2 separate regions of the Homo sapiens genome follow, and region 2 is linked to region 1. Evidence: fine-mapped expression QTL. A gene starts in region 1. The other region holds a variant in brackets. All regions are shown on one strand. Distances are from middle to middle. Region 1 holds the start of BRI3 (brain protein I3). Region 2 overlaps BAIAP2L1 (BAR/IMD domain containing adaptor protein 2 like 1).

The links.
Region 2: its variant is fine-mapped to the expression of BRI3 in monocytes (Fairfax 2014, PIP 0.95).

What each region holds. Positions count from the first base shown.
Region 1 is chr7:98,280,163-98,283,180 of GRCh38, forward strand. BRI3 (brain protein I3) reads left to right here and starts at 1,524. Exons shown (of 3, transcript NM_015379.5): 1 at 1,524-1,775; 2 at 2,189-2,291. The coding sequence starts at 1,634. RefSeq lists an enhancer at 355-1,339 and silencers at 1,036-1,545, 1,676-2,015.
Region 2 is chr7:98,340,605-98,343,104 of GRCh38, forward strand. The region is part of intron 3 of BAIAP2L1 (BAR/IMD domain containing adaptor protein 2 like 1); the gene reads right to left. Among named protein-coding and RNA genes, the nearest start is that of BAIAP2L1, 59 kb to the right of the region's middle. The variant ATT/A (reference allele first, on the strand shown) is at 1,437.

The DNA of each region.
Region 1 (3,018 bases):
CGACGTTGCAGTGAGCCAGGGTTGCATCACTGCACTCCAGCCTGGGCCACAGAGTGAGACTCTGTTAAAAAAAAAAAAAAAAAAGATATATATATATATATATATATATATATGTATGTGTGTGTATATATACATGTGAATGATGATCCCTTATTAAAAAATAAAAATAAGGCCGGGTGCAGGGGCTGACATCTGTAATTCCAGCACTTTGGGAGGCTGATGCAAAAGGATTGGTTGAGGCCAGCAGTTTGAGACTGGCCTGGGCACATAGCAAGATCCCATACAAAAATTTTTAAAAATTAGCTGGGCATGGTGGCGTGTGCCTGTGGTCCCCAGCTACTGAGGAGGCTGAGGTGGGAGGATGGCTTGGGCCCAGGAGGTCGAGACTGCATTGAGCAATGACTGTGTCACTCTACTGCAGCCTGGGTGACAGAGCAAGAGAGCCCCCCCAGCACCCCCTACAAATTTTTTTTTTAAAAATTAAAAAGGCGCGGTTCGAGAAGAGCTGTAGTCGTCCCAGAGCTACAGTGCAGGTGATATCAAAATGCAGGTGAGAAAACTGGAGACAGAATACAGTAACGGATACAGGTGCCCCTGAAAAGGTGCAGAGGCGCTAAGGACGCAAGCAATCCTGAACGTTCCAATCGTTCGTTTTAAAGTTGTCCTGGCCAACCCGTGAAGCCTTGTATGAGGAAATGTTTCAACGAGGGCGCCTGACGCAGTCCCCGAGGCCAGAAAACACCCAGGTTTAGATACGGGCTCTGACCCGCACCTGCCACAGCCAAATCCCTCCCCCTTCTGAGCCCGATCCCGTGTTGTCCTCCAGGGGTAAGCAAAACACCTGGCAGGGCTGCCTGAAGATTAGGGAAACTGAGGAGACGCGGCAGGTGCCCAGTATTTATAGTTTTGTCCCCAAACGGGGGAGTTATTTGTAAGCACTGGCTACTACCCCCGTCAATCACCTAATTGTCCAAAAAAAGGCAAACGGAGGGAATGCGCCGCAGCTGAGCACCGCGCAGGCCGCAGCTGAGGTGCACACCCGGGTGTGCCCTTTGTATTGCTGGAAGCGCTGGCGATCATAGGGGCAGAGGGCTGGCGTTGGGGCGGCCTGGGACCCACCCGGCCCCGCCCCCTCTCAGGCCCCGCCCTCCCCCTCCTCCACCGGTAGGGGGACCTCGGCCGGCCTGGGAGATCGGGGCGTAGGGGGAGGTGGGGGTGCATCCGCGAGCCCTAAAGGTCATGACCCTATGGGGCGTCTCTGGGTCGTCGTGGGGGATGGGCGGGGGGGGGGGTCTCCCCGCCACGGGAGGTCTAGAGAGCAGCGGCGGCGGGGCGGGGCGGAGTGCAGAGGCGCCGCCGGCGGGGCGGCTTCGGGAGGGCGCGGCCCCTTTAAGACGCCCCGCCGGCCCCGCCCCCGAGCCCCGCCTCCCGCCGCCCACGTGACCCCGGTCTTGTGACTGGGCCCGGGAGGGCGGGGGAAGCCCGCGGCTCGCGCCCGCCCCGCCCCGCCCCGCGTCTGCCTCAGAGGGGCCCGAGCCACCCGGTCCGCCGCGTCCCCGCCGCCGCCGCCGCGTCCCCCGCCGGGGCCGACCGAGCCGAGCCGGGCCGGAGCGGCGGGCGCGGCCGGGCCGCCATGGACCACAAGCCGCTGCTGCAGGAGCGGCCGCCCGCCTACAACCTGGAGGCCGGCCAGGGCGACTACGCGTGCGGCCCGCACGGCTACGGCGCCATCCCCGCCGCGCCCCCGCCGCCGCCCTACCCCTACCTCGTCACAGGTGGGCCCGTAACCAACTTTCCCCGCCGGCGGCTTCCGAGGTGGCAAGCCCGGTCGGGGGACGTGGGTCCGGAGGCGGGTGGGGCCCGCCCGGGGGTCCTTCCTGGAGCTGGAGGTCCCCGGGCTGGCTTCGGGACCCGGCGCCGCCGAGGGCCAGCCTCCCCCCCGGGGCTCTAGTCCTCGGGCCCGTCGTAACCCGGCGGGGCCGGATCCCTGCCCCAGATGAACTTTGTGTCACGAGGCGCTCGCTGTTGGCAGATTAGCGCCGAATCAGGCCCGCGGTGGCCGTCCCGAGGGTGGAAAAGACCGGGGGCTTTTTTAGCGGGGTGGAGGTTGAGGGGACAGGATGAGTAGTCCCCGTGGCGGTCCGATTTCTCCTCCCTGCACCCTAATGACCTGCTTTCCCGCCCACAGGGATACCCACCCACCATCCCAGGGTCTACAACATCCACAGCCGGACCGTCACCCGCTATCCTGCCAACTCTATCGTGGTCGTAGGAGGCTGTCCTGTCTGCAGGTGAGTGGGTCTGCAGCCTGGGGACTGGCCCTGGAAGCTCTGAGGACCCCCGCCCTAACCCCCAGGACCTCACAGCTCTGCTTGTGGGAGTGGGTCCGGCTTGACTTGGATCTTGACCAGAGCCCTTTATGGGAGGGACAGACAGGCTGCCCGAATGCGGTGTGGGAGAGTGCGGGTCCGCTCACCCTTGGCTCTGAACACATTTTGTGGGGGCAAAAGGGTGGATTCCTTTTCCTAGATCTTGGGGCATTGCACCCCAAGTGATTGGGATGTAGAAATGGTAACAACGGGACTCGTGGTCCTTTCGTCTTTGTTCTGGGACTTGCAAGGAATCAGGTGTCTGCTTTTTCCTTCACTTTCCGCAAGTTTACTCTGCAGTTGATCGTCGAAGGTGGTGGAAGGTTTCATTTTCCCGGAAGGGGCATTTGGAAGTAAGTGCACCAGCAGGACAGACCTCAGTGGGAGAAGCGACGGCCGTAAGAGCTGCTTTATCCAAAGTTGGCTTGAAACGCTCTTCCACGAGCTGGACCAGGATGGAAACCCCGTGTTTCTTTGAGGCAGGAGTTATTTTTTTCATATCCTCGCATTGGACCTGCACACGCTTTTTGGTTTTTATAGGGCCCCGAGGTGCAGCTAGAGGCTTGTTTTGTGGAGGTTTTGAGGATTCACATTTAAATAAGGATTAATTAAATATAAACCCTTGGCAGCTGGGGGTGTTCAGATTGCT
Region 2 (2,500 bases), 60 kb after region 1:
AATTATAGTACATTGAGTATATATATACTCACTTCAAAGCTGAGAGAAGGAATGTTCTTCTTGTAACAACTTTTGTAAACAAGTACAATTTATAACACAGAACATCTTCCTAAACTTTAGGAATGTACACATACTTACACCAATGCGCCTACACGACACATGGACTTCCACAGTACATGCTCTTACAGGTTTTTTTTTTTTTTTGCAGGGGACAGAGTTTCACTCTGTCACTCAGGCTGGAGAGCAATGGTGTGACCTCAGCTCACCTCCGCCTCCTGGGTTCAAGCGATTCTCCTGCCTCAGCCTCCCGAGTAGCTGGGATTACAGGTGCCTGCCACCAGGCCCAGCTAATTGGTTTTTTTTTTTTTTTTGTCTCTTACAGGTTTTATAAATTATAACCCTACCTTTCTAATTATTCTAGCTGAGACCTTTCCTGTTCCAAAAGGGAGAAGAAAGAACATCCACCCAAAAATTGAGATGAGAAAAGCCACCTTCAAGGTCTAAAGGCATTTATCATGTGCTTGCTTCCAGGAAAAAAATTATTTTCCAAACCCCAAACTGAAAATACTCAAGAAAAAAAGCTGGAATAATGATCGCATTATAAATGCTTCTAAGTAAAACCAGCAAAATTGTGATTACAGCTGAGAAAAATCCAACAAAATACAGACTCATACTCACATGGTTAGTCAGCATGGACCATATGATGGTTTGCAATTTAACACAATCCTTTATTTTGCTGAACTCTAATTGGCAGGAAAATCTGACAGCCATAAAGTAAAGCCGTTAGAAAAGCACAGTCCAGGTGCAGTGGCTCATGTCTGTAATCTTAGCACTCTGGGAGGCTGAGGTGGGAGGACTGCTTCAGCCCAGGAGTTCGAGACCAGCCTGGGCAACACAGAAAGACCCCCATCTCTAAAAAAAATTTTTTATTTTTTAAAAAAGCACATCTTTTGGACATATAGAAAATTAAGTTGGCAGACTAGGTCATATACCTGGTAGGTAGCCTGGGGTCCAATGAACCAGCCACTGACCAGATACGCGACCTCAGCAAGTTACTGCCTTTGTACCTCAGTCTCCTCATCTATAAAACGGAAATAACAAGCATGGGCCTCACAGTGCTGTCATGATGATTATAGGAGTTAATATTACATTTATAATGTGCTTAGAACTGTGCCTGGCATATAGCAGGTACAGTGTTCAGTAAATAAAATCTCCTCTTGTTTCTTTGCTATTTTTGTGGAAGAATTTTAATCTCTTTAAAGTGAGTCTAACCTGTAACTAAAAGATAAGTGATTTTGGTCAATTATAACTGCTGTGGCTCAGCTCAGCTCTTTCCCTACTGTGGTATGAATTCTTTTATCCAGATCTTAGGAATATATTTGTAATATTGTTGTGAATTAGTAACATTTCAAAAATGTTTCAGAAATTTTTTTCTG[ATT/A]TTTTTTTTTTTTTTTTTTTTTTTATAAAGACAGAGTCTTGCTCTGTCATCCAGGCTGGAGTGCAGTGGTGTAATCATGGCTCACTGCAACCTCCGCCTCCCAGGTTCAAATGATTCTCATGCCTCAGCCTCCCAAGTAGCTGGGATTACAGGTGTACGCCACCATGCCCAGCTAACTTTTGTATTTTTAGTAGAGATGGGGTTTTGCCATGTTGGCCTAGCTGGTCTCAAACTCCTGGCCTCAGGTCCACCCACCTCGGCCTCCCAAAGTGCTAGGATTACAGGTGTGAGCCACTGCACCCAGGCTGAGCCACCGTTCCTGGCTTCTGCTCTAATTTTTAGACCAAAGACTGTCAGATTGGATTCTGAGTATCAGCAAGACAAATCTATAATGTAGTTTTTAAAAATTGCATGATCCATAAGCATTCTATCAATGATTAAAGGAAATCTATGATTTTCTAGGTTCCCTGATAGTGAGGAGATAAAATATTCTGTTTTGTGCCCAATTTCAGAAACTGGCCCAAACAATAAATGATTCAAAATGCAATGGCTGACTAAACTACAACAAAATAACATAGCCTAAATTTACATAATGGTGAGCTCTAAAAAGCTCAAAGCAAATTTATAAACTCCCCAAAGAAAGTCTTATTTCCTGAGAAGTCAATGAGAACATCCTTTATTTTTCTCTGCTTTAAGGATGAAAAAACTGACTCAAAGGTTCTTCTAAAGATTTTGGCAAAACATTTTCCCCTTACCATTTCTGTTTTCCCTTTCACCTTTTCAATATTTTCTGAGTTATAAAAATAAACCTTGCTTGATTTAGGAACAAAACTGGAAGTTTATGAAAATGTCAGATTCCTTTTTTAAATGGGCACTGCTGGGTAGCTGTGCTGCCTTGAACTGAACTGTGTACAGGTAATGAAGGATTAACCTTTATCACGTGTGATAAAGGATTTAACTTTATCACACGTGATAAAGTCACATGAGTGACTTTAGGTACACCCACTGACAATCTGTTGAGTGGCATGAATTTGACCCCATGACCTATTATTTAACAATTAA